Homo sapiens: one gene and its partners. The protein of the gene in region 1 interacts with the protein of each later gene in a biochemical or structural test. Each region holds a gene or a part of one and is shown in the gene's direction. Other genes may lie near its edges.

Region 1 (7,023 bases):
TCTCTTCAGCTTGTGGCTTCTCTTTTTCAGATGAAGACTGGCCCATTTGCAGAGCACTCCAACCAGCTGTGGAACATCAGCGCCGTCCCTTCCTGGTCCAAAGTGAACCAGGGTCTCATCCGCATGTATAAGGCCGAGGTGAGTGGGGGCTGGCCAGTGTGCCCGTCCCTGCTGCCGCACTTGGTCCTGGGCTGGGGACAAAGCAAAAGATGTGGAACCTGGGGCTCCTGCTTCCTCCTACCCCACTGTTTTGCTCTGAATCTTAGGCCAGCCCCTCTGACACTTGGGGCCTCGGAATCTCCCATCTGGGGCATGGGCAGTCAGAGAAGCACCAGCCACCCCAGCCCCGAAAAGCTGCAGTCCAGCTCTGTCCTGATGAGCTTGGAGGCTGAGGCAAGGACCTGCTGCATGGGGAGTGGGGGCGATGGGGGCCTCCCTTCTCCTTTATCAAGTGGCCAAAGGCTCCTCAAAGCTCGGGCAGTCTGAGTCTGGCTCTCCCATGGCATACCTGGGAAGGGTCTTACCCTTTGGAGGCATCTCCAAAGTGCTGCCTTCAAATGTTAGTGTGTATGATCACTGAGTGGTGGGAGGTCTGAGGGTAGGCCGAGAATTGGCATTTTTATGGACCGCTTCAGGGATTTTGATGCAAATGGTTTTCCCTGCTCTCAAATCAGATGCTGAGGAGAGGAGAGCTGAGGCTTCCTGGAGCTCCCCCTGCTGGCAGGCAGCCGAGGGTGTCTCCTGCCCTCTTGGCACTGTTCTCCCAGCCAAGGAGGTGGCCTTTTCTCTCTTCCAAGTGGGGAGGAGACATTTTATTTCTACTCTGTCCCTTCTGCTAGCTCCTCCCACTTCCTGGGAAGACTAATTCTAGAACTGCTTGACCTTGGCCAGGGAAGGGCTGGATGTGAAGTTCCACACCTGGAGTGATGGGTCCTTAAAGTCCCTTCTTTCTGTTCTCAGGCTGGCCCTTGTGACTAGTTCATGGCCTCAGACACTGTACTGTGGGCACCATCTCTTGACTCCTGGCCGGCCTTCTCTTCTGGGAAGGGGCTGCTCCAGGTCTTCATTGGACCCAGAGCTTCCTGGATCCCATCAGCAGAGGCGGGACAACGGGGAAGGGTGCCAGAGGCCAGCGGGGTGGGGGAGCACAGATGCTTCCAGTTGGCTTGGCTCCCTGCACTTGGTCCTGAAGGGGTTAATGAGGCTTGAACTGAACAGACCGGGCCCTCACTCCCTTCCGCCCCCTCCCCCTTTGGTCCCCTTCCTCTGGACCTCACATCCTGTGTTTAGGTTCCAGCCCACATACCTCTCTAATCTGAGAGGCCTGAGAGCCCGTTGGCTGGAGCTGCCTAGGTTCCTTCCGGCTGCAGCTGGCCACCCCCGGCTCTCCACTCCGACTCTGCCCTGGGTCACTGCCCTCTGGTGTCCTGATGTTCCTGACCCCACCCCCGCCTGTCCCACAGTGGGGGCTGCTGGGGAACTCTCACTCTGCTGTGCCCCGCCTCCAGGGTGTCTGAGCATGTGAGAGGTGCACATCGCCCACCAGCCACCTCCCAACCCCAACCCTTGTGTGCCAAAGAGAGGACTCTGGCTGCCTTCTCTGCTTGGTACCTGAAGTACTGTCTTCTCTACAAGCCTCTTAATTCAAGTGACTCTAAACTTCTCTCGACTCAGGCTCTAAGGCCCAAAGGATAGGGCAAGAGACCCTGTCCCCTTCTCTCACCTGCCCTTCCAGAGACAAAAGAACTCCAGGCTGCCAGAGGATGAGGGAGGAGCATATTCGGATTGAAAATGGTGATGGTGTGGCAGGAACACAGGGACTGTCCACTCTGCACAGGCTGTCGGGGTCTCCGTGGGGGCTGAGCACAGGGTGGCAAACACAAAGAGGACACTGAAAATGACCAACTCAGGATGGGGGAGCTCTCTAGTAATCTGAAAAAGGGAGATTCTAGCCCTAGTTGAGGCCGGCGCTGTGTGGGGAAGGGGACAGGCTCCTGTATAGGGTGACGCTGGAACTCCCTGACTTTAAGATCACCAAGTCAGGCCGGGCGTGGTGGCTCACGCCTGTAATCCCAGCACTTTGGGAGGCCGAGGTGGGCGGATCACGAGGTCAGGAGATCGAGACCATCCTGGCTAACACAGTGAAACCCCGTCTCTACTAAAAATATAAAAAAATTAGCCGGGCGTGGTGGCGGGTGCCTGTAGTCCCAGCTACTCGGGAGGCAGAGGCAGGAGAATGGCGTGAGTCCGGGCGGTGGAGCTTGCAGTGAGCTGAGATGGTGCCACTGCACTCCAGCCTGGGCGACAGAGCGAGACTCTCTCAAAAAAAAAAAAAAAAAAAGATCACCAAGTCTTTGCCTGTAATCCCAGCAATTTGGGAGGCTGAGGTGGGTGGATCACTTGAGGCCAGGAGTTCGAGACCAACCTGGGCAACATGAGGAAACCCCGTCTCTACTAAAAATATAAAAATTAGCTGGGTGTGGTGGCTCATGCCTGTGGTCCCAGCTACTTGGGAGGCTGAGACGGGAGAATCGCTTGAACCTGGTAGGCGGAGGTTGCAGTGAATTGAGATCACACCACTGCACTCCAGCCTGGGCAACAGTGTGAGACTCCGTCTCAAAGAAAAAAATCACTGGTTGGGTGCGGTGGCTCATGCCTATAATCCCAGCACTTTGGGAGGCCAAGGCAGGTAGATCACCTGAGGTCAGGAGTTCATGACCAGCCTGGCCAACACGGTGAAACACTGTGTCTACTAAAAATACAAAAATTAGCCTGGCATCGTGGTGCGCACCTGTAATTCCAGCTACTCAGGAGGCTGAGGCAGGACAGTCACTTGAATTTGGGAGGTGGAGGTTGCAGTGAGCCGAGATCATGCCACTGCACTCCAGCCTGGGCAACAGCGAGACTCCATCTCAGGAAAAAAAAAAAAAAAGATCACCAAGTCTTTGCAGTGTTCAACACTCATTGACAACTTACTAGCAACTAGCCCTTAGTCCTTGGTCCCGAAGGGCCCATGGGCTGGCATGTTGCCTACACAGAGGTCCAAGGAGAGGGCTTGTTTTCTCAGGCCAGTTCTTAGCCCCTAAGGAGGCCCTCCAAGGCCTGCCAGTCTTGCAGTCCAGGGGTGGGTAGGAAGGCTGGGTCTCCAGTCAGAACTGGTTGATTGAGGGGAGTCAGCCTCCTGGGCTGCCACAGAAGTCTGACCAGCCTGGCAGTAGGTGGCCTCAGGATTTGGGTCTAACTCTGCTCTGTCCCAGCCTTTCTGACCGAAGAACCAAGTGCTCTCAGGGGCCTTGTGTGGTTGCGGGGCGGCGGGGGGGAGGGTCTGTCTTTCCTCTGGGCCATGGCTGTGTGGGTGCTGCCTTCAGAAGGACCTTGTCAGGACCCAGGGAGTCCCTTCCCCAGCTTGAATCACCTCTGGCTGGAAGGTCAGGGGGCAGTCTGAAGCCGCTGCTCCGCCCAGGTACATGGGAGGGCCTTGCTGGGAGAAAGGCTGGGCTGGAGGCTCCTCCTGCCCTGGAGCCTTAGGCTTCCTTGGCCCAGCTCCTGTGGCTCTGAGGGGGCTGGCTCTGGGGTCCTGTGGGCAGAATGGGAAGAACCCCTGCCTCCACCCCTTCTCGCCTTGCAACTTCTTCTATGGGAGCTAGAGGGAGGTTGACCTTTGACCCCTTCTGGAATTCCAGGGCCCTTGGGGGGTGGGGGGGCTCTTATGACCACTTCTGGGATGACATAAGCACCATGGCAGCTGCCTTGGCCTCTGGCCTGGATCTGCGGCTGCTCCCCCTCCCGCCCAGGGACCACCTCCCGCTCCCTGCTCCCGCATTCTGTGTCTCAGGCCCAGGATCCTGGCTGTGGCCAGGGCTCTGCTCCCCACCCCACCATGAGCTTGGTTTCCATCCTTCTTTCCCTCCCCTCCTGGCGCCTCTTTGGCCCACTCGTCACCCTGGTGCTTCTCCCTCTTAGGTTCCACAGCTGATTTTTGAGGAGAGGGAACCTGGGCCAGTCATAGCACCCGTTTGTCTCTAAGTTAGTTGGAGGTTAAGATCACAGCCACAGAGTGAGGCTCTTACTCTCTCTGAGGCCATAAGTCTTGTTCCACCCCAGCCAGGAGGTGCCTAACATACTCTGTTTTCTGTGGCCAAAGGTGTGGGAGGAGGCCCTGGTCAGTCTTGGCAGATCCAACCCTCGCATGCCCAGAACGGCTCCTGTGAGAGCTAGTGTCCAGGTGTGGCAGGCATGGGGGTGCTGTTGCGGGAGCTGCAGCTGGAAGCTGGGGTTGGCTGCCTGTGGGCCAGGCCAGCTTCTGTGATAGGCCCTGTCACTTGCTCTCCAGCTCTGCTCCTCTGCTAGGAGCCCGGGCTGGGCTGGGCTCAGGGAGTCGGGCCTCCCCCGTGCTCAGCCATTCCCCTGTTCAGCGCTCTTTTTCCCCTGCCCCCCACACAGGCTGCTGGGAATTGCCCAGGGGTGGGGGGAACTCAGTGTCAGCTGGTTCTTATTGTCTCGCTCTGAAGTGCCAAGATGCCTTTTTCAGTCCAGAGAACTGAAAGCTGGAGAAAACAGGCTTTGGGACCCGGCCTCAGCCTCTTAGGCTTACGTTCAAATGTCCCCACGTCTCTTCTCTAGAACTGGGACCTGGGCTGGGGGTCCCCAGTGATCAGGAGGGTTCTTTCCACCTCAGGTTCCCAACTTCCCTCTCTGGGCCAAGTGATGGCACCTGGCTGCCTCTCTTCTCGGTTTCTACCTTGTAGGTTTGGGCTGCCTTTTCTCTTTCTCTCTCTCGTGGGTCTCGTTGTGGAGTGGGTGTCTTTGGATAGAAGGAGTGAGGAACTGGGGGAGGAAGGCCTGGGGGATCCCCTGGCGGGGCTACTTCCTGGGCCCGGGATGGACACCTGGGAGCTGCTGCGGTTGTTGGGGTCCTGGCAGGGGTGTGGTGTGGCCCTCACCACTCTGCTCACCTGCTCCTTCCTCACAGTGCCTGGAGAAGTTCCCTGTGATCCAGCACTTCAAGTTCGGGAGCCTGCTGCCCATCCATCCTGTCACGTCGGGCTAGGAGGGGCCAAGCCGAAGAGCCACCCAGGCCACAGTTCCTGTGCCTGCCTTCCCCACCCCAGCAGTGGCCCCTCCCCATCCCCTCCCTCTGTTCGTCCCGTTTGATGAGAGGCTGTTTACTGGGGTGGGGTGGCGAGATGGGCTTGAGGGGGCTCAGAGCATAAGGCTTCAGGGCCCAAGTTGGGAGAAGTGACCAAAGTGTAGCCAGTTTTCTGAGTTCCCGTGTGCTAGACTGGCCAGAAGAGAGGGTCTGGGGCCTGGTCACTCGGCCACTCTCTCCTGTTTCTGGCCTCTTCTCCCTTCACTCCCGTCCAGTCTGGTTTTGAGAGCAGGGGCTGTTCTGCAGCACCGCAGGGAAGGGAGGAGAGATACCTGCTGCTTCCATTGCTTTTCCCTTCCTGGAGTCGATGCCTTTCTAAGGGTTGGAGCTGCTCCTTGCAGGGGCGGGTCAGTTTCCCAGGCCATGCCGGGGTGGCCATCTATGGTAGGGCTGGAAGCTGAGGCTGGCCGCCAGCTGTGGGCTGGGGTGGGGTGGGTGGGGTCGGGTGGTGGAGAGGCCTTAGCTGTCCTGGCTGGTGCCCCTCCCAGGCTCCTTTTCACCCTGCCCCCTGGGCCTGAGGCCCCCTGTGTCCAAGCCTCCCCCTGGCTCTTCAGTTCTCTAGCCCTTGGCTCTGCTGGGTTTCCTGACTGTAGCCACATCTCTCCCGCTCCCTAAGGGTAACCTAGCCAATGGAAGCTGCCCTTTGGGTAGGTGCTGGGCTCCTGGGAGGGCCCAGATGATGGGGTGAGGCATGTCTTTCCAGAACTTTCCCTGGCAGGGAGGGGATGGCAGAAACTCAGGGAGGGGCTTGGGGCCCATTGTATCTGGAGAGCCTGGATTCCTCTTGGCAGTCTTAGGCCCGGCCACTTCTGCTACCTTTGCGCTGCTGTGAGCCTCACCCTGGGCCCCTGGGCCCTGCTTCTCTGCTCCCCTGGGTGATGGGTGGGCCCAGAAGGTGGCAGTCCCACACCTTGTCCTCCCACCTCCCTGAACTGTCCATTGCTTTTATAGGGTGAGGTAAGAGACAGCCTCCCAAGCCCAGGCTTTGGCACTCAGAATGGGCCCAGTGGGGGCTGGGCAGGCCCATTGAGGGCCACCGCCGAGGTTTCTCCTAGGGCTGTTCCTGGGCCTGGCTCTTACAGGCTCGTCCCCCAGGCCTGCCCTTCTCCACTGCCCCCTCCTGTGTCTGGGTCCACACACCCTTCAGGAAGGGGGAGCACTGAGAAGCACAGCACAGGGGCTCAGCCTGGGATCCGGTGATGGTCTGGGCAGAGGCTGGGTCAGGAGTCCCAAAGGTCAGTGACAGTTTCTCAGAAGAGGCCCAGCGTCCACCTCTCTCCCAGGGCCAGACAGCCCTTCCTGGCTCCCCCATCCCCCTATGGGCTCCCAGCCCCTTGCACCCTCATTGCTGTTCAGATTAAAGCCTCTGTTTTGCACCTGTCACTTGTGTGAGGTATGTCTTTTCATGTCACATGTTTAACCCATTTCTGCATGACTGACCTCCATCAGGTCCCCTTCTCTCAGGCCACAGTGTCTGAGACGAGCTGTTTCAATTTGGGTTGAGCCTTTCCTGGGTTTAAATCCTAGCTGTCTGCAGTCCCAGCTGCAAGGTTGTAAGTTACTGAAGCCCCTGAGCCCCAGCTTCCTCAATTCACAAAATGGGGACAGTCACAGGGTGACTGCCAGCAGTGGACAGCAGATGTGAAGTCCTCAGCTCAGGGCCTGGCACATAGCATATCCCGGGTGGTCACTGCAGCTGTGCTTGGTGAAGGGGGCCCCTCTGGACTCCCAACTTAGCCCCAAGCTGGCCAGGGAGCCTTTGGATGGGCTTTGACAGTGGAACATGCACCTGTGGTTTGTGAGGGGGTGGCCCTCTATTCTCCCTCCTCTGCCCCTCCTGTCCCTGCTGGGCTGGAGTTGAGGGTCTCTGGGGC
Region 2 (7,290 bases), on another chromosome or scaffold:
TACACTGTTAAGCCAAAAAATTGGCTTCTCACACTTATTCCTTTGGCAATATTACCTGAGCCCCAGGTACTGTGTTAGATGCTGAGGATTCAGTGGTAAGCATGAGAGACACAGGTAGAAGAACACAGCTTACCAGGCAAATAGACTCATTGAAAGTAGCCAGAAGATTATGAGAGAAAACCCACAGGACAAACATGAGAAAAACAGGGAGCAGGAACACCTACTTTTCTTGGTGTGGACAGAGAAGGTCTATCTGAGGAGGTGGCATTGAAGCTGAATACCTAAAGGCAGGAGAGGAGTGTGTTGTACAAAGAGTGAATGAATGTAGAGGAACCTACCTGTTCCAGGTGGAGCAAGAGCAGATCCTAAAGTCCTGAGCTAGCAACCAAAGACTATTTGAGGAATTTAAAGGTGGTCAGAGTCTGGATTGTTAAGACTTTATATTCTAAGAGCATCACTTTCATCTGTGCCTGGAGAATGGATTGGAGAAGGACAAAGGGGAGGTAGGAAGACCAGTGAGGAAGGTGTGGTAGAAATCCAAGTGGGAAAGAATGGTGGAGCAGGATGCTGCAGGAGGGATGGAGAGAAGAGGGCACTTTGGGATAGGTTTTGGAGAGGGAGAAGATTTGCTGATGGACGAGATACTTAGGGAATGGGGAAGAGAGCAATCACAGGTTACTTCTGGCTCCAGTAAACAAGTGGAGCCACTTATTTAAGTGGGGATTTTCCAGGTGCGATGGCCCATGCCTGTAATCCCAGCACTTTGGGAGGCCACGGCAGGCGGATTACTTGAGGTGAGGAGTTTGAGAACAGCCTGGCCAACATGGTGAAACCCCATCTCTACTAAAAATACAAAAATTAGCTGGGCATGGTGGCAGCACCTGTAATCCCAGCTACTCAGAAGTCTGAGGCAGGAGAATCACTTGAGCCTGGAAGGTGGAGGTTGCAGTGAGCCAGAACGAGCCATTGCACTCCAGCCTGGGTGACAGAGCGAGACTCTGTCTCCAAAAAAAAAAAAAAAAAAAAAGGTATGACTCTTATGGTGGAGTATGAAGGGCTTCGGGGTTCATTGAACACCAACTGGTGAATTGCAGTTCAACTCTGGCAGGAATCACCTGGAGTTAGAACAGATCCTGCAAGTTTAAGGGTACGTTTCCCAAAAAGATTGCCCCTATTTCAGGTGCCAACCACACTTGGGTGTCCCCAAACCACTTGCACTTCAGACCAACTGGCTACACAGTCAGGAGTATCCATGACTCCCTAGGGTTGATAATGCACTAGAATCACTCATGGAACTGAGGAAAGTGCTGTAATTATCATTTATAGTTTTATTATAAATAATACAAATTAGGACCAGTCAAATGAGATATGTTAGGCAAGGTCTGCGAGAGTACCAAACACAGAGCCTCTGTGCTTTCTCCCTGCGGAATCAGGGCCATTACCCTCCCAGCACATCAATGTGTTCAGCAACCAGGAAGCTCAATGAAGCTTCAATGTCCAGAGTCTTTCCTGGGATTTCATCATGTAAGCATGACTGATTGAATCATTGGCCACAGGTTGAACTCAATCTCTGTCTTCTACCCCTCCCACAGGTTGGGCTGGCTCAGACATCCAGTCACTATTGGTCTTTCCAGTGACCAGCTCCCAATCTGAATTGTCTTGTTAGTAAACTCAGGAATAATCAAGGAGCTCATGAATAACAAAGATACTCCTGTCTCTTGAGAAATTCCAAGAATTTTTAAAGCTCCATGCCAGAAACCCAGAATTAACAAAGGCCAAAGTCTTTATTGTACCATAGGGGTGAACATTTTGAATTCCATTTTAAGTATGTTAACTTTTTTTTTTTTTTTTGAGACACAGGTTTACTTTGTCACCCAGGCTGGAGTGCAGTGGCAGTGATCCTGGCTCACTGCAACCTCCGCCTCTCGGTTTCAAGTGATTCCTGTGCCTCAGCCTCCCAAGTAGCTGGGATTATAGGTGCCCACCATCACGCCTGGCTAATTTTTGTATTTTTAGTAGAGATGGGGTTTCACCATGTTGGCCAGGCTGGTCTTGAACTCCTGACCTCAAGTGATCCACCTGCCTCAGCCTCCCAAAGTGCTGGAATTACAGGCGTGAACCACCACGACCAGCCCAATTTTCCCTTTTTTAGTCTTATTCTTTCAGGAGTGCACAATGGAGTTTTCCAGGGGCTCCGTGACATATAGTGACTTCATTGCTCTGATATTCATATGTAGGGGATTTATTATTGCTATTTTTAAATGCATTGATAAATCCATGTTAACTATTTCTCTTAGTTAAAAACAGTAAACATTTTTAGATATAATCCACCTAAACAAAAGCTATACTTTGTGCCCAATAATTTTTAAGAATGTAAAGGGATCCTGTGATCAAAATATTGAGACCTGCTGATTTTTCAAAAACTCAAATTTTACCAGTTGTTCCAATAATAAGCTTTTCCTTTTCTTGATTTTTCTGGCCAGGATACCACCCAGGTTAATTTAGTTTTCCTGTCTTTTTTTTTTTTTTTTTTTTTTTTGAGACAGAGTCTTGCTTTGTCACCCAGGCTGGAGTGCAGTGGCACGATATCGGCTCACCGTAACCTCCGCCTCCCGGGTTCAAGCAATTTTCTTGCCTCAGCCTCCCGAGTAGCTGGGATTACAGGCATGCGCTGCCATGCCTGGCTAATTTTTGTATTTTTAGTAGAGACGGGGTTTCACCATGTTGGCCAGGCAGGCCTCGAACTCCTGACCTCCAATGATCCGCCCACCTTGACCTCCCAAAGTGCTGGGATTACAGGTAGTTTTCCTGTCTTTTAAAAAGTCCACGGCTGGGCGCAGTGGCTCATGCCTGTAATCCCAGCACTTTGGGAGGCCAAAGCGGGCAGATCACCTGAGGTCGGGAGTTCGAGACCAGCCTGACCAACATGGAGAAATCTCATCTTTAATAAAAATACAAAATTAGCCGGGCGTGGCGGCGCATGCTTGTAATCCCAGCTACTCAGGAGGTTGAGGCAGAAGAATTGCTTGAACCCAGGAGGCAGAAGTTGTGGATAGCCAAGATCACACCATTGCACTTCAGCCTGGGCCACAAGAGCAAAACTGCATCTCAAAAAAAAAAAAAAAAAAAATCCTCCTTAATTCTCGGAATCCTACCTGGTTATTTTGTAGAATGTTCCTCAATTTATTTTTGTCCTATGTTTCATCATGATTGGATTCAGGTTATACATTATTTGGCAGAAATACCACAAGATTGATGTTGTGTCCTTCCCAGTGCAATATCAGGAGGCACATGATGTCTTGTTACTGGTTATGTTAACTTTGACAACGTTATTAAGGCAATTTAGTATTCAGTATTTAACAAACAAGCACACTAGTTTGTAGTCTTTTCTGGGCAAGTGAGGGTTTCTTCTCAATTTCAGTGCCTTTTCTACGCCCACCAATGCTATTAGTCACCTTTAAGGTGAAGACTGCTGAGATGGAATTATTTTTAGCAATGATAATAATTTGTTGGGGTAATAGTTGTACAGCCCTTTGCTGCCATCTAAGCACTTTTACGTGGTTTGGTTCATTTAAATCTAACAACCCAGTGAGGGGGCCAATTAGTAGCATTTATATTACATGAGAAATTAGAATTCTAGAATCACATACCTATTTATTATCATGACATGGCTAAGTCGAATTAATAGTGAGATAGGTAAATGGCTATTTTAGGCAGCAGATCCTTTTGTATGTGGTATCTGAAAAGCCACTGAGGCAGGAAGACAAGGAAGAAGAATTTGGGAGGATCTGCGTGCAGAGGAGTGGAAGAGGAAAGAGGAATACAATTAGAAATAGGATTCAGGCTGAATTTAAAGGCTTAGTGATGACGGGTTCTTAGGTTCGGGTATGTGGGAGAAAAAAACCAGCATAGAGACTACCTTCGGGGCAGAGTGGGTTCTGGGCACTGGGTAGGGGCTGGGCCCGGGATGGGGGGATCAAAGGGCTCTGGCGGGACCCAGATGTGGATGGGGCAGGGCCGAGCGTGGGGACTGGGCTTTTCAATGACGGGCGGGGTTACGGTTGGGCAGCAGGTGGGCGTGGCAGGCATAGGCGGAGTCAATCTATGAGTGGGTGGGCCTATCGCCAGGCCGAGAGTGGGCGTGGCCGACGTGGGGTGGGTAGCAGCCGACCGAGTCGGACCGGCCAGTTGGGCGCGCTTCCGGGTGTCACCTCCAGAGGGCGCCGGCTGCGGAGCCGCCCTCAGAGTCGCGAGGCCGGACGCAGCGCGGCGCCGCCCCACTCGCCCCAGCCGCCGCCATGAAGGCCGTGGTGCAGCGCGTCACCCGGGCCAGCGTCACAGGTCAGTCGGGCGGGGCCGGGCCCGGGAGGAGCCGCCCCTGACCCCCGCGACCGGCTGTCTTGCGTGGGGGGTCTTCCTGCGCCATCCTTGGGGCCGCTGCGGCCCCTCCGCGAGCCTGGTCCCCTTCGCGAGCTCGGTCCGCGCAGCCGCGAGTCCCCAGGGCCGGCTTCGGGGCAGCGCGGCGGCCGGAGAGCCCCCTGCACGTGCCCGACCGGCCCCGGCGCGCCCCTGGCTTCCGGCTCTCGGCAGAGGGTGCAGGACCAGCGCGCCTCATTCTCAGCACCTTTGTCCTGCGTGCGGGATGGCGGAGCCTCGGAGCATCTCCGTGGTCCGCTCTTCAGGGAGTGTTGATGAACCACGCTTAGAGCATTTCCGGAGCAGGCACTCCTCCCTTTTCACTGCTGTATTTTAAATGTTCAATTTTTGCCCATTTTTACGTATTCCAATTTTTATGGGGCTTGACTCAGGATGAAATGCACAGATGCGGAGAGTTGCTCCTTGGGCTGAGCTTTGACAGTTGCGTGCACGTACGTGACTGGAGCCTAGGCTGGATGAGGGGCGCCCCCTGCCCAGGACGCCCCTCGCCCTCGCCCGCTGAACTCTGCGCGGAGGGGTCGGGATCTAAAGAATTCAAGATGAAAACATTTCTCTTTTTCTTGTGGACCAAGCTACCCGACCCCTGGTCATCACTCAGCACTTTCGTCTCGGTTGGGCATCAGAGGTCCAGATGATTAGTGTAGATAAAGTAGTCGTTTTAAGAAAACCACGGTACGAAAGATATTTTTTAAAAAACATTTAAATGACAAGCTTTATATTGTCTTTAGTCTTTTCTGTCTTTATTGGCACAACTATATTGTTTCAGTTCAAATAATTTCAGATATCCTGTCCTTGGAGCCAGTCTGCACCAAATATGCGTTCTTGTGTCCACAAAAGTATGAATTAAAAACAAAACAGGCCGGGGGCTGTGGCTCACACCTGTAATCCCAGCTCTTTGGGAGGCCAAGGCGGGCAGATCACCTGAGGCCAGGAGTTCGAGACCAGCCTGGCCAACATAGAGAAACCCTATCTCTACTACAAATACAAAAATTAGCCGGGAGCGGTGGTTGGTGCCTATAATCCCAGCTACTCGGGAGGCTGAGGTAGGAGAATCGCTTGAACCCGGGAGGCAGAGGTTGCAGTGAGCCGAGATTGTGCCAGTAACCTCCAGCCTGGGCGACAGAGCGAGACTCTGTCTCAAAAAACAACAAACAAACAAAACCCCAAAACAAAAAACAAAACAAAACAAAAACAACAAAAAACCCTAAAGAAACAACCAAACCCACCAAAACCGTATATTTAAATCTAAGAGTCTATTTTTCAACCCCGCCTAATGATTTCTAAGCTGTTCTGGTAGCTTTGGTTTTGGAAATGGTCCTGGAATAATAGGGAATAGAGTAGCACTGGGATTTAGGAATTTTAAAGCTTTTATAACATTTCTGTAGATATTTAAATTCATGAAAACTGGGAAAATTCATAGATGAAAGATGTTTTGCATTATTGAGAAGAACCTTGCAGTCTGCTGCTGTGTGTGGTCGTCACTGACAGATTTAAATTTTGATCTCTCTCCTGAACTCTCCATCCTGCTAATCTGGAATATTGAAAATGTGTATTCTGTGAGATGTGCTGAATAAGAGTTTGGGTTATTTTGGTTCACTATTTAAGTTATATGCTTTCAGTTAAAACAACCAAACCTGCATATTAAAAAAGATAAGGGTGTTAATTATGGGAAAGTGTAAATAATTCGGGAATTCTGGGTTGGGGAACTGTGGAATTCTGTTAGAAGGGCCCTCCACTTATGCAGGCCTTCTAGTTGCATTGTAATGGAAAGGGATTTTCTGATTCCTTTAAAATGTGGCTGGTTTCACTGAAATGTGGCTGTGTTTGAATGGCATTTTATTTTAGGGGTTCTAAAATGTTAACTTCCTGTTTTATGGTCAGGACAGCATAGATTATCAGGAGTCACACATTTTATTTTATTTTAAAATAGTTGGTTGACTTCACATTTATTTTAAATTTATGCATTTATGGTTTGTTTGTTTTAGAGATGGGGTCTTGCTCTGTCACCCAGGCTGGAGTGCAGTGGCACTATTATAGCTTACTACAACCTCAAACGCTTGGGCTCAAGTGATCCTTTAGTTTCAGCATCCTGAGTAGTTAGACTACAGGCGTGTGCCGCCACCGCTATGTCCAGCTTAGGAGTCACACATTTTACTATGTGGTATATTCAATTTATGTGATTGGTCAAACACATTTTTTTTTATAGTAACCCTGTAATATCATTTGATGCCCAGTCCATCAGATTTCTCCAATTGGCTAATTGGTTTTGTTTTTGTTTTGAGAGAGTCTTGCTCTGTTGCCGAGGCTGGAGTACAGTGGTGCCATCTCTGATCACTGCAGCCTCTGCCTCCTGGGTTCAAGCGATTCTCATGCCTCTGTGTCCTGAGTAGCTGGTCTTACAGGTGCGCGCCACTGTGCCTGGCTAATTTTTTTGTATTTTTAGTGGAGACAGGGTTTTGCCATGTTGACTAGGCTGGTCTCAAATTCCTGGCCTCAAGTGATTTGCCTGCCTCGGCTTCCCAAAGTGCTGGGATTACAGGCATGAGCCACTGCACCCAGCTTGATCAAACACATTTTGATGCCTTAGGTTGGGTACTGTGATAATCTAATTTTTAAAAGTTTATTATGGCACATTTCAAACATATTAACAGACGGAATAGGGCAATAACCCCCATGTCCCATCATTCATTGTCAGCAGCTAAAATTTGATGTCTGTGAACAGTGTTGGAAGAGGATCTAAAATGTTTGGGTTTAACTAGGTTAACTTCAAAGGTTATGAATTCTTGAAGTAGAGATCTCAGGTCTGATGCCACTAGTAGGTAGAAAAATTGACCAAACATCTCAGTCTTTTCC
Region 3 (7,023 bases), on another chromosome or scaffold:
CACCGGAATGTGTAATTTCTTCTTTGAGGTTGCCTTTCACTTCCATGAATCAGTTTCAGTCTTTGTCTCTTGCTGAGATCGGGGGCGATTTTTAAACATTTTTACCACGGATCTTCTATGCCACCTGCTCTGCTGTTATTGATGGATGGGAAAGTCACTTTGGAATGTGCAAGGCATGACACATTTGAAATAGGAGATCCTTTAACTCAAAGTCTGGAAGATAATAGGAATTTTCTGATGTTAAGAGAAAAAGGCAGAATTAAAGTTTGTAATGAAATATGGGCGCTCTAGAGATAGGAGTGTCTTTTTTTTTTTTTTGACAGGGTCTCACTCTTTTGCCCCGGCTGGAGTACAGTGGTATGATCAGAGCTCACTGCAGCCTCAAACTCATGGGCTCAAGTGATCCTCCTGCATCAGCCTCCTGATTAATTGGGACTACAAGTACGCACCACCATGCCTGGCTAATTTTAAAACAACTTTTGTAGAGAAGGGGTCTTGTGATGTTGCAAGACTGGTCTTGAACTCCTGGCTTCAAGCAACCCTCCCACCTCAGCCCCCAAGTGTTGGGATTATAGGTGTGAGCCACTATGCCCCTCTGGAGTGTCTATTTTTTAAATTGCCTTTCTTTTTCTCTTCCCTGCCTCCCCACCAAGAGGCAGCGTAGAGAAGTGGGCATTTGCACAGGCTACCAGGCAAGTCCCTGTCGGTCTGAATCCTAGCTTTGAGACTTCCCAGGCATATTACTTAGCCTCTCTGTATTTCAGCCTCCTTGTCTATAAAACGGAGTCAGTAACAGTACCATAGTGTGGCTGAGCAGCTCCAACTCATTGCAATATCCAAGATTCTTGGACCAGAGCTTGACACAGAGTATGCTCAGAAAATATCTGCTCTTATGATTGTCCCCAGACTACCCCAATGGTGGGGCAGCTGGCACGAGAGAAGACTGGCTCTGCAGGGTTGCTTTGCTATGGAACTGCCTGCCAGGTAAGAGTCAAAACTCAGCCATGAACTTCTGGTCACTCTGTGTAGCTGCTTTGACAGCATATTCCATTTGGGCAGCAGTAGGGAGGAGTGAGGGGAGGGGCAGATTGGCAGTCCCTGAAATTGAGATGTTTAGAATGGGAACATATAGGAAAGAGGGAAATTTATCCCTGGTACTCAGCATTGCCTGGGACTAATTCTGGAACCACTGAGGAGTTCCTTAGTATCTGATTGTTCTTGGTATCAGATATTTCCTCTGAAAGTAAATCCACTTACGATGGAATCAACAGTTTATACAAAACACATAAGGTTTTATGATCTCACTTAAGTCAGCAATCCAGAGCCCAGGGCCTCAGGTTCCTTTGAGTTTTCTGCTCCACTATCCCTGGGGAGTGACAATTATCTCATGGTCCAAAAAGGATGCTAGACGCTGGAGTCCTCACACCCTTCTTTCAGCTAGCAGGAAGGAAGAAAGGGGTAAAGAAGGGCATATAGCACATGCTCGGTGTCACTTGTTTAAGTTGCTCAAGATCCTTCTACCTACATCCTCTTAGCTAGGGTTTAATCACATACCCACACCTTGCTGTGAGGGAGCATGTGGGAAATGTAGTGTTTATTTCAGGCAGCCACTATTTAGAGGATGTTTCCATTTCAAAAATACAAGCAGAGAGAGGATGTTGTCTCTGCCACTCTGGTAGGAGGTGTGTAGGATGATCGCAAGGCAAAGAAACCATTGAGAGTAACCTTCAGGCTCTATTACATTGTCATGGAAATTGGGGACACTGCTATGGGTTGGGAGAGGAAGGATGGAAAACTCATAAACCTTGGGAAATTATGGATTTCTGTGTGCTCAGGGGAGCTTAAGAATAGATTTTCTTGCTTTCGTATGATGATAGGACGAAACTCTAGGTTGACTGCCTCATAATTTCTCCCTTTTTGTTTCCACTCTGTCTATTTCTTATAAAACCACTCTCTGGGAGGTAATTTAAGAATGTGTTTGATGACAGGGAACTGGGGCTGAAGATCCCTATTGTAAAATTGCCTAAATTCTAGAGTAGAAGTGGAACTCCTTTGACAAGCAAGGCAGATTTCTCTCTATGGCATTTTTTTCTTTGCCTTTTATTTATTTATTTATTTATTGAGACAGAGTCTCACTCTGTTGCCCAGGCTGCAGTGCAGTGGCACCATTTCGACTCACGGTAACCTCCATCTCCTGGGGCTCAAGCGATTCTTCTGCCTCAGCCTCCCAGGTTGCTGGGATTACGGGGGCCTGCCACCACGCCTGGCTAATTTTTGTATTTTTAGTAGAGATGGGGTTTCATCATTTTGGCCAGGCTGGTCTTGAACTCCTGACCTCAGGTGATCCACCCGCCTCGGACTCCCAAAGTGTTCAGATTACAGGCATGAGCTACAGTGCTGGCTGTTTCTGTGGCATTCTTTACAGGAACTTAGGACCTGCATTTGAGCTTTAATTTTAATTAAAGTCTTCTCTAAGAAGATTTTTGGTAGAGAGAAAAACCTTCTTCTTTTATTTTAAATTTTGTTTTTAGAGACAGGGTCTCACTGTGTGGCCCAGGCTGGAGGGCAGTGACATGATCATAGCTCACTGCAGCCTCAAACTCCTGGGCTCAAGTGATTCTCCTGCCTCAGTGTCCTGAGTAGCTGGGACTGCAGGTGTGTGTCACCACGGCCCTTTTTTTTTTTTTTTTTTTTTTTTGAGACGGAGTCTTACTCTGTCATCCAGGCTGGAGTGCAGTGACGTGATCTTAGCTCACTGCAACCTCCACTTCCCAGGTTCAAGTGATTCTCGTGCCTCAGCCTCTTGAGTAGCTGGAACTACAGGCACGTGCCACCATGCCCGGCTAATTTTTATATTTTTAGTAGAGGTGGGGTTTCGCCACGTTGGTTAGGCTGGTCTCGAACTCCTGACCTCAGGTGATCTGCCCGCCTTAGCTTCCCAAAGTGCTAGGATTACAGGTGTGAGCCACTGAACCTGGCCAAATACATATTTTTTAATTTTAAAATTTTTTGTAGAGATAGTGGATCTTGCTTTGCTGCCTGTGCCTGGTCTCAAACTGCCAGCCTCAAGCCAGGAGTCTCATTCTGCTTTGGCCTCCCAAAGTGTTTGTTGTTTTTGTAAAGGAAGTGACTTTGGTAGAAATAGAGAGGCAATAAAATATAGAGATTCAGAATTCTTAGCAATGAGTTGGAGTCCAGTAGAATTGGGTATGTATCTCTGATGGAGCCGCTTACTCCCTGTGTGACCTTGGGCAAGTCGTCCCCCAGCAGCAACTTTGGTCTCCTCATCTGTAAAATGGGGATAATAGCACCTAACTCATAGGGTTATGGTGAAGAATAATGAGGTGGTGCATGAGAAATAGCCACAGCAAGTATCAATGACTCTAAGTGAGACCATCAGTATTACTTGATTAGCTGTAGGAAACTGTGTCAAAGTGGGACGGAGTTCATTCTGGAACTTGTTAAATGACTAGGCCTCTTTCATGTACTTAGATAGTTTCTCTTCTTGGGTATATTTCTTCCTGGGTATTGGGTAACACCAGTGAGTGCTCAGTTCAGTGTCTGGGCCCAGAAACCCATGCCTGGTTAGCATTGTCTTTTCTTCTGAGAAAGATCTGAACTTGCCATGGACTCTCTAGAAAAACCCCAGTGTACAAATTTTCTATGAAAAGCTAGAATTGATGATTATAATGAGTAAGTTGGCTCTTCCTTTTCCCATGTAGATTAGAAAACATGTTTTTAAATCTTCTAATTGAAATTATTCTTAAAAAACCCCAAAGTCTGACATGACTCCAACTATTGTTGTTTTCATCAATATCAATCCTATCAAATCAAAGTTTATTTTAGTGTGTAATTAACACATGTAGACTAGAAAAGTTTGCACTTTTTTATATCACAAAAAAGGTTAATTTTATTTTCTATGGAAAGCTAGAATTGATGATAATGAGTAAGTCAGCTCTTCTTTTTCCCATGTAGATTAGAAAACAGGTTTTTAAATCTTGTAGTTGAAATTATTCTTAAAAAACCCCAAATCATGACATGAATCCAACCATTCTTGTTTTTATCAATATTCACCCTATCAAATATAAAGTTTATTTTAGTGGGTAATTAACATGTGTAGATTAGCATAGCATATGTGTATTTATATAACAAAAAATGAATCAAAAGTTAATTTTATTTTGGGCAGTGTTCCCTAGAAACTTATAATATGGCCCCATGCACTTCAGGTTGAATTTTCTTAGTAAAATCATAAAGAGGTCCATTTTTTCAAAAAATCACCAAGTCAGGCTGCAAGTTTAGAGGTTACTTCTATTGTTTCACTTCTCTTTCTTCCCAGAAGCAGACCCCAGAGACCTGTGAGCCAAACTCCACTCACCTTTTAGCTTATTCTAAATGTGTCCTGCGGGCTTCTCTGTGAATAAAAGGCAGAGGCTTTTTGACTTCGTGTTTGATGATTTGGCTTTTTTCTTTTTTTTACCACCTGACGGGGGATTTCAGGCTCAATGTCCCAATCGAAATAAGAATCTTTGAGTGGGTTAACATTGAGTCTTAAAAAGGAGGGCTGATTTGTTGGAGAGGCAACAACGAATTCATTTTTCACTGTAGAGCACTCAGGAGGAGTCTGAAGCTTTGTCACTGGGCAACAGAATGCCTTTCTAAGTAAATATGGAAAATATGACCTTTGAAAATCTAGCTGATATGATATATAGATTCTTAGGATATAATTTTTAAAAAATATATTATTTCCAAGCACTAATGATACTCCAGAGATACTGCCCACAACCAGATGCAGCATGTTTATAGTGTATCTAGGCCAAAAAAAAAAAAAAAAAAAAAAAAAAATAGAAGATACAGAAGAAGGCAATTGGTCAAAAGATTAACTGAAGGTTTGAAAATAATTTTATACACATTTGTACTGTTGGGGTCTCTCTTCTCTCTGTCTCTGCTTATCCTTCTGTCTCTGTCTCTTTGTTTCCATCACACATGCACACACACACACGTGTATACACACACATATATGTAAGTAGATCAATATGTTATAATTTTCACAATACGCATCTTCTTTTGCTACTTTTCAGATACAGGTCATTAAATTACTAAGTATAATTTAAAATATATGGTCTGGCCTTTTAACTCTGCAGTTCAATTAATTCTTGGGTAGATAGGGGGATCTGCTGAAAAGTTTGTCTCTGACGCCTTCAAAGGTAAGTCCCTTATGTTCTGGCATTTGCTCTAATAACATGAATTCTTTGACTTCATTCATCCAATCTCTTCATTGAAATTGTGTGAAATTCCATAGATAGAATGTTAGCCTTTTTACAGAGAATACAACATCCACAGTGTTTACATATGGCATTTGGAGGTGTGATGGCTGCTTGAAAATCCAGTAGGAAATTTGTCTATTCACCACATACATTCATTTATTCATCCATCCATCCCTCCATTTATCCACCCACCTCTCTATTCATCATCCGTTTTTCTGTTTATCTATTTGTCCATCCATGCATCCATCCCTTCACTCCATTCTCCTTCTAAAAGTTCTTTTTTTTGAGACGGAGTCTTGCTCTGTCGCCCAGGCTGGAGTGCAGTGGTGCAATCTTTGGCTAACTGCAAGCTCCACCTCCCAGGTTCACGCCATTCTCCTGCCTCAGCCTCCCGAGTAGCTGGGACTACAGGCGCCCACCACCTCGCCCGGCTAATTTTTTGTATTTTTAGTAGAGATGGGGTTTCACCATGTTAGCCAGGATGGTATCGATCTCCTGACATTGTGATCCTCCTGCCTCGGTCTCCCAAAGTGCTGAGATTATAGGCGTGAGCCACCGCGCCCAGTCTCTTTTTTTTGTTTAGACAAACTCTCACTCTTTCGCCCAGGCTGGAGTGCAGTAGTACGATCTTGGTTCACTGTAACCTCCGCCTCCCAGGTTCAAGTGATTCTCCTGCCTCAGCCTCCCAAGTAGCTGCGATTACAGGTGCCCACCACCTCGCCCAGCTAATTTTTGTATTTTTAGTAGAGACAGGGTTTCACCATGCTGGCCAGGCTGGTCTCTAACTCCTGACCTCAAGTGATCTGCCCACCTCAACCTCCCAAAGTGCTGGGATTACAGGAGTGAGCCACCACACCTGGCCTCACTGATTAAGTTCTATGTGTCAAGTTCTATTTGTCAGGAACTATTTTAGGTGACAGAATACAATGGTGAATGAAACTGAGAAAATTTCTGTTGTCATGGAGCTTATGATGTAGCGGGGGGAGATAAGACATTCTACAGATCATTTCACTCATATTTAACCTCATTTTTATTAGGTACTTTGAAGAAAATGGACTGGGTACCGGGAGAATATATAATGGGAAGCTAACCTATGTAATGGCTGGGGATGCAGTCAGTGGTCTGGGAATTAAAAAAAAAAAGCCCAACTTCTCATTCTCATTTTCTGAGGTAACTGGAGAAAGTCTGAGTTGTCAAGGAACTAGAGCTAAAAATCTGTATTGTAAAACTGCCCATATCCTGGATAATATATGCAACAGGGCTGAAGGCAGTGGCTCATGTCTGTAATCACAGCACTCCGGAAGGCCAAGGCAAGAGGATTGCTTGAGGCCAGGAGTTCGAGACCAGCCTGGGCAACATAACAAGACCCTATCTCAATTAAAAACAAAACAAAATATGTGCAGGAGACTTATCTTTGTGACATTCTATGGAGAAACCGTAAATATTTATTTGTATCATGGCTGCAAGTAAGATGAGTAAGTATTTGGTAGAACTAGCCTGTTACCTTGAGATGGCTTCTTTCCCAGTTTGACAGAGAACTTCATCTCCTCTTAGTTAATAACTCAGATAATGAGCTGACTTCCTTTTTGTTTAGGGTTTACAGTTTGAGGTGGCTGTTCTAAAGAAGAAAAATCAGACAATTTCAGAGGTGGAGGAGCAAGTCTGGGCCAATAGATTGAAAATAAATAAAAAGAGAGAGCACGGCATTTCAGTGAGAGGCATTTTGAGCTGAAAGTCAGTTTTCAGGGAGCACAAGATT
Region 4 (7,023 bases), on another chromosome or scaffold:
AGCCTCCGTGGACGTTCTGGAGTCTTGGTGGACGTCAGCACTTGTGCTTATCGGGCCCATACCCAGGAGTGGAATTTCTGGGGTCCTGGGTGTGCATTTGTCAGCTGGTCACTATTTTGCCACCAATGACATAGCATTGAACATGCACTGCCCAGGGCCACTGAGGCCCCAACATGAGAAGGTGAATAGGGAAAGCGCCCAGCTGGCCAGCTGCCCACACATCTCGGGGGCAGCTGCCGGGTCAGCAGTTTCTTCCTGGAGCTTCAGTTTCCTCAGCAATGATGGACTGAAGTTTTAAGGTCCAAACACACACTTTACTCCAAGCCCTTAAAGGGAAGTTCATCCTTCTCTGCCTTCCAGGCTCCCCAGTGAAAGTGGTCAGACCTGTTGCTTTCAGTCCGTCAGGGTCAAGGCCACCAGCCCTGCCTGGAACTTTAAGAGCTGCCGGGGTCAGTGCTGGGACTTCATTTTCTATCAAAGCCGGTCTGTGACTCAATGGCATCCCTGGGACAGTCAGCGTTTCGCCTTCTAATTGGCATGGGTTTATTCTTTTTTTAGGAACCTCAGTAATGGCTTGTTTTAATGGAGGTCAAGTCACATTTTTAGGAATTAATATTGTTTACATCTTACTCCAGAAAACTAGCCCCGAGTGAGCATGGTTGTCTCCAGGACTGTGGTGTGGGTCCATGTGTTCTCACCCTGGGGTTGAGAGGGAATGCTTCCTGCCAGAGCGCTCACTGCCTGCGCTCCACTGCACCGCAATTACAGTGGCCCTTTCCCACGAGCCGGGCACTGTGCCAGGCACCCCGGGTATATTCCCACTTCATCCTCAGTCATCTTGCAGGGTGTTCTCACCAGTCACGGGGTGCCCTGACTGCAACCGTGTGGCCAGCTAGTACCTGCCCATGTGGAGGCACGACCCCAACACGCTGGCTCCGTGCCGTGGTGTGCGGCCTCTTGCTGCGGCCCTGTCGCTAGTTCCAGATGGGGAATGTGTGGCTCAGAGAGGTGAAGTGGGCCGTTCCTGCCAGCTGACCTGGGCGTTCTGCCTGATCCCTGCTGGGTTTCATAACCAGCAAGTGTCCTGTGACATGTTGCTGGATGTAGCCTGGCAGAAACGCCCCTTCCTCTGAGATGGACGTCACGCCGCAGTGAGCTGCCCCACGAGGATTCTGCTGAACGCTCCAGCAGGCTGACTTTAAGCCAGCTGTGTCCTTCTTGCGGCATCTCTTCTGAGAGCCAGGTTTCTTCACTCTTTCTCCATTGCTACCCTTTTTCTTTGAAATGGAGTTCTTGGTGGCAGGGCAAGGGAAAGGGAGCTCTGTATTCCTTGGCTCATTCTCTAATAACTGTTCCTCTGACTCTTGAGTCAAGCCCTGCGCCCGGGATGCACCACACCCCTGCCTGTGGAAGGCAGTGCGAGGCCAGAATCAGACCTGCAACCGCTGCTGCAGGAGTCAGCGCACTGTGGGGACCCAGGGAGGAGCTGGCGCCCACACCAGCTGACTCCCACACCAGCGGTCAGAGAACATTGTCTTTTAAGGTTTCCGAAGTGCTGCAATAAAGAAATTAAATCATCTTTTCACTGTAGGACTTTTTAGAGGCTTTAATGCGGGAATTTGCTTTACAAACCTTCCAGAGAGGAAACAGCCTCCAGCATCTTCCTAATGGGACCAAGGCACCTCTAGGTGACAGCTCAGGGCTGTGATTGAGAAGACGAGGAGCCTCATCTCTTGGGGAGAAAGTGGCAGGGGTGGGGGGCTGGGGAATGGCCCCCTCAAGACGGTTAGCCACATCAGTGACATTCCGCTGTCAGGCGTGGTAAAATAATGGGGCAGGGTATGGCAGGCATGACGGAATCTTGCCTGTGATGAAGCGGGCTCCCTGCCCAGTGCAGGGCCATCTGGAGACCAGAGGGGCCTCCCTGCGCTCCCAAGGGCCAGCCCAGACGCCAGCTGACAGGCAGCAGGAAGGGAAAGAGGAGCCCATTAGGTCTTGCTCCTCACAAGAACCATGTTCTGAAATATGTTTTTTACTTCTTGCTCCTGTTAAAACTTAACCACACCTCTATTAAGACCTCATGTCTGCAACCCAATTCCCTGGAGGACCAGGGTTTGAATTCAAGATCTCCACGTGAGAGCTGAGCACACTTGGGCGATTTCTTAACCTCTTAGTGTTATTTCTGGACAAGGCTGATGTCAGCCTTGTGAGCATTAAGTAAGGAAGGCCGTGTGTAAAAAGTCCTCAGCGTGTGCCCAGCCTGGGGTCGTGTCCAGTAAAAGGCCCCGCCTCTGATGGGCTGCTCTGCTCTCTGCACTTGTCTTCCAGGACCTGGTGACGATGGTGGAGCAGCTGGCCAGATTCCTGGGGGTGTCCTGTGACAAGGCCCAGCTGGAAGCCCTGACGGAGCACTGCCACCAGCTGGTGGACCAGTGCTGCAACGCTGAGGCCCTGCCCGTGGGCCGGGGTACGTGCCCCACCCTGCCTCCCGCCCAGGCACTCCCCACCCCAGCCAGGCTGCTTTCTCTGCCTGCTTAGGGAGCCGAGTCCGGTCCCTGTTGCCCTCCCTGCTCTCCTTTTACAGCAGTCTGTAGCTGGCCCATGGCCTGTGCTCTGTTAGCTGGTGCCCATGGATGGCACAGTGCTCATGGAGTGACGGAGTACCCTGCCCGCTGGTGTTTGCATTGCCTCCAAGCAAACAGTGTTTTGACTTGAAAAAGTGCATTTCAGGCTTTGTGGGCGGGATGTTTCTCAGCAGGGAGTCTACTCAGATGGCCTGAAATCAAACGCCCCACAGAGCAGATCCAGGGACTGGGTTTGGTGCTATGACATGTCAAAGCGCAAAGCATGCTGATGGGTTTCTCAGTCTCTAACTGACTTGTGGGAGAGTTAAATGAAGTGGGCGGGAAGTTAGGAGACACCGTTTTTCTTCCTTCACTGAGTGGACGCTGACTGAGCATCTTCTGGGTGCAGGCAGCACAGGTGAGGCCTAGCCCCACTTCGGGGTGGTGAACTTAAGCAGACAGTACCAAGCTAAGCCGCTGCACAGAGGGAGGCCAGTTCCTGCTCTTGGCGGCAAGTGACAGTGGGCATGAGGCAGCTGGAGATGGGGACAGTGTTCCTGACAGGAATCCTCCCCAGATCCACCTGGGTTGCTCCCCCTGTCCTTAAGGGTGTGTGGCATTTGGCTTTGATGATGGAGAGCCCAGGCTCTAAAACCCCTGAATCCCAGGGTGCTGGCCTTGGCCATAGGAGGCCCCCTGTTGGTAAGTATGAACCTGATGGACACTTGGTGTGTTGGGCACTTCCTGGGTTGAGAATGTTTGCAGGGAGGGCCCAGAAACGTGGATGGCTCTGTTCAGCAGCAGCCCCACAAGATGGAGTGGGAGATGCCTGGGGCGGATGAGAGACGCGCTGGGCTCCAGCTCAGCTCTGCTGCCCTCTGGGAACGCAACATAGGTCAGGCCTTCAGCTTCTGCGGCTTTTTGTTCTTCTCTGAAAAGGGGCTGATCACGGCTAAGGGCGGTTTGAAGGTCAAGTGCAAAGTGCCGTCTCTTATAAAGGCAGAGCAGTGGACTCCTCAGGAGGAAGTGAACTGAACCACAGTCCCTCTCGACTTCTTTCCTGGCTGCATTTTCATAAATATTTGTTATTTAACATTTATTTGCTCTTTTTTAGTTTTGCTTTTGCTGTGTTTTGTTATCCTTGGATGTGACCTTCTCCAAAATACCCCTTTTGGTTCACGTGTGTGTGTGTGTGTGTGTGTGTGTGGTGAAGCAGCGTCGAGAACATACTGTGTGCCCATATGCTCCTTCCCTTGGGTTTGCTTTATCATGGTTTACCTTGGTTTTGCTTTATTTCAGTTCTTTGATTTGTTTTCTTTTAGCACATTGCGTCTTTGCTCGGAAGATCTTCTTGAGTTGGTGAGAATGCAGGGCCGAGTAGCCAGCTGCATTGCTTAGATTTGATTCATGTCACAGCATAAATTGTCTTGATTCCAAATCCTAAACCAGGTGGGTGACTCCTCTGACGAGCTCTCAGCTGTCTCAGCTGAGAAAAATAATCATGGAAAAATAGTTTGGTTGCTCTAGCAGCTTCTAATTTTGCCCCTTAGGTATCATTAAAGGGTTACAAGAATAATTTTTCTTGTTTTTCTCTCCAACACTGATAATTTTTTGTTACCAAAGAGAAAGTCCGTGTTACGTTGGGTATTTTAGCTCAGCATTTGCAGGGTTGCAGTTTGAAAAACCTGAGGTCCTGCCTGGACAAGGACCGCTGTTAATAACGGAGCTAGTGAAGGACATTTGCTGGAGACAGAGCTCTGATCTCAGAGAGCTGACAATGGAAAGAATTCTAAACGAGCAGTTCTTCAAAAGCAGGGAGGCAGTACTCGGGTGATGTGCTCACAGCTCCCATAACTGGGAAGTTTGGAATCCCCGCCCCAGACATCTTCACGGTCACCGTTGCTATTGGACTAGACCAACCTAAGATTTTATATTAACAAAGACAATGGGAGCAACAACTTCTCTTGTCATGTTGAGCTGTCTTTCGTTTTTCCAAAGCCTTCATAAACCAGCGTAGACCGGTGCCTGCAGTTTATCCCACAGCTCAGCCCTCCCTTGTGGCTGCCAGGAAGAGGTCTGGGTTTCTGACTAAGCCTGGGCTAGAGCAGCTGGGGGCTGTGCCCAGACTCATTTTATTGTTGACTCAGGGAATTCTCACTGCAGTGCATGTTTTGCATCTAGTCTGTAAAGCTAGCTAATGCTGCGACTATTTGATTCACTTTAAATTCCTCCCCAGGGTTTGCCAGGGCAGGCTTCTTGAAATCTGCATCTTTGGCCCAGTCAGGAGGGCTTCCTACTTAGTGTAAAATTTTCTGCACTTTGAATGATTTTTTTTTCCTTTTCAAATTCTCCCGAAGCCAATGACGCCTTGGTGGCACTGTTGAGCTGTGAGTGGATAATGGCGTGGGAAGGGCCAGGGCTGCCTGTGATGCCCAGAGCAGTGCACTCCCGCGGCAGATCATACTCGCTCCTGGGATGTTTATTAAACACCTGCCACGTGCCAGGTGCCGTTCTAGGTGCTGGGGACCCAGCACTGAACAGGAGTAGAGTCTCCCTGGTGGGCCCCAGCGGGGGGTGTGGAATGGCACCAGGAGGTGGTTGTGGCTCACTGTGCCACAGCCTCAGAGGGAAGCTGGTTCAGGTCATGTTCTGCCGCATCCAGTAGTTTCACAAATGTTAGGGGACCACCTGGTCTGTAGCTCAGACGGCCCTTCCTGCCCCCATAGGCCAAGTTCAAAGGGATCCAGGAATAGATCTGGAATGTTCCAGATCCATTTCCAAGGCTTCCTTTAGTTCAGTAGCTGGCCGGACAGCAAGTGGCCCCAGCAGTTCTCTTGTTTGCGTTTCAGGAAGAGTTGGGCTGTGGAAGGACATCTTCACCGTCTCCATGAATGAGAAGTTTGACTTGGTGTATAAACAGAAGATGGGAAAGTGTGACCTCACGTTTGACTTTTATTTATAATAACAGAAACAACAACCTGCATGCTCACAATACCCAGACAGTCTACTAGCCAAAAGTCCTGTATGCATTCATTTATTCCTTGCTGGACAAACTCTGGAAGCAGCGTGTGAAACAGCGGGGGAAGGGAAGAGCGGCGTGAGCGGAGGGAGTGTGATGATTCCCAACCGAAAGCAGCTGTCTCGCCTTTAGAACGTGCAGCCTCTCCATGTCTGATTACAAACAGTCTCCACATTGCAGTTCCAATGGCCTGGACCGTAAGGATAAAGCCTGTAATATATGCAACTAGAATGTCTGCCTTTTCAACCCCGTATTATTGTATTTTATAGAGCTTTTCACTGGAAATCTACATAAATGTCAGTAAACCAAATAAAAGTTCATTTCCAAGGGGAATCAGGAGCGAGCCACACCCGAATGGTAGAAAGATCTCAGGGTTAACTCTTTATTTTTGTAGTTTTATTATCTAAGGCACAGCCATTCTGTTCTCACTTGGTTCTGAGATAGTGGTGAGAACAGAGGATGAGTTGGGTCTGTTGGGGGGAATCTGGACACTTGTTTATTCTGACGGAGTTCACTTCTTCAGAACCTTCCTGAAATGAGCAGAAATTGTTCACTAGGTCTTCAGAATGGACGTCCTTCTGCCAGAGACTTCCAGCGGGCGGCTCCAAAGGCCCAATGCAGAGGAGCCCGCGGAGCATGTGCTGAGGGAAGTCTGCCTGGTGAGGCTGGCAGGTGGGAGTCTAATGCAGTCAGGAGCATTTGCATGCAGTGGGTGGAGAGTCGGCCACCAAAGGACCGAGTTGCGCTCGGAATTTGAGCTGAATTCCACAGCCTTACTTTGTTTCCTGAAGTGATAGCCTACTAATGCTGGCAAGCAGATGCTTAATAGTAAATTTCTAAAATCCCCGGGTCTTTATCATTCAGTTTGTTCTGTGCACCTGAGGCGCTCAGCCGTGGGAGGACCATTTTGCGAGTGTAGCCCTGTTTCACTCGGATCAGGTTGGCACGGCCGCCTGCGTGTCTGTCCACCTCATCCCTCCGTGTATCTGAGGGAGTAAAGGTGAGGTCTTTATTGCTTCACTGCCTAATTTTCTCACCCACATTCGCTGAAGCGATGGAGAGTCGGGGGCCAGTAGCCAGCCAACCCCGTGGGGACCGGGGTTGTCTGTCATTTATGTGGCTGGAAAGCACCCAAAGTGGTGGTCAGGAGGGTCGCTGCTGTGGAAGGGGTCTCCGTTCTTGGTGCTGTATTTGAAACGGGTGTAGAGAGAAGCTTGTGTTTTTGTTTGTAATGGGGAGAAGCGTGGCCAGGCAGGTGGCACGTGGCATCGCATGGTGGGCTCGGCAGCACCTTGCCTGTGTTTCTGTGAGGGAGGCTGCTTTCTGTGAAATTTCATTTATATTTTTCTATTTTTAGTACTGTATGGATGTTACTGAGCACTACACATGATCCTTCTGTGCTTGCTTGCATCTTTAATAAAGACATGTTCCCGGCGTTGC

What was found.
Region 2: of the proteins of PTPA (region 1) and DTD1, one has a biochemical effect on the other in vitro, tested with the Homo sapiens proteins (one study listed by BioGRID).
Region 3: of the proteins of PTPA (region 1) and PRKCB, one has a biochemical effect on the other in vitro, tested with the Homo sapiens proteins (one study listed by BioGRID).
Region 4: of the proteins of PTPA (region 1) and SULT4A1, one has a biochemical effect on the other in vitro, tested with the Homo sapiens proteins (one study listed by BioGRID).

The regions. Positions count from the first base shown.
Region 1 is NC_000009.12:129,142,415-129,149,437, forward strand, and holds the end of PTPA (serine/threonine-protein phosphatase 2A activator), read left to right. Parts: intron 1-30; coding exon 31-138; coding exon of another isoform or gene 139-486; exon of another isoform or gene 487-4,972; coding exon 4,973-5,050; 3' UTR 5,051-6,532; downstream 6,533-7,023. UniProt on the Homo sapiens protein: PPIases accelerate the folding of proteins. It catalyzes the cis-trans isomerization of proline imidic peptide bonds in oligopeptides. Acts as a regulatory subunit for serine/threonine-protein phosphatase 2A (PP2A).
Region 2 is NC_000020.11:18,583,775-18,591,064, forward strand, and holds the start of DTD1 (D-aminoacyl-tRNA deacylase 1), read left to right. Parts: upstream 1-4,279; 5' UTR 4,280-4,298; coding exon 4,299-4,341; intron 4,342-7,290. UniProt on the Homo sapiens protein: Possible ATPase involved in DNA replication, may facilitate loading of CDC45 onto pre-replication complexes. An aminoacyl-tRNA editing enzyme that deacylates mischarged D-aminoacyl-tRNAs.
Region 3 is NC_000016.10:23,838,976-23,845,998, forward strand, and holds part of PRKCB (protein kinase C beta type), read left to right. Parts: intron 1-622; exon of another isoform or gene 623-984; intron 985-7,023. UniProt on the Homo sapiens protein: Calcium-activated, phospholipid- and diacylglycerol (DAG)-dependent serine/threonine-protein kinase involved in various cellular processes such as regulation of the B-cell receptor (BCR) signalosome, oxidative stress-induced apoptosis, androgen receptor-dependent transcription regulation, insulin signaling and endothelial cells proliferation.
Region 4 is NC_000022.11:43,824,504-43,831,526, reverse strand, and holds the end of SULT4A1 (sulfotransferase 4A1), read left to right. Parts: intron 1-2,328; coding exon 2,329-2,467; intron 2,468-3,886; coding exon of another isoform or gene 3,887-3,927; exon of another isoform or gene 3,928-4,013; intron 4,014-5,413; coding exon 5,414-5,526; 3' UTR 5,527-7,018; downstream 7,019-7,023. UniProt on the Homo sapiens protein: Atypical sulfotransferase family member with very low affinity for 3'-phospho-5'-adenylyl sulfate (PAPS) and very low catalytic activity towards L-triiodothyronine, thyroxine, estrone, p-nitrophenol, 2-naphthylamine, and 2-beta-naphthol.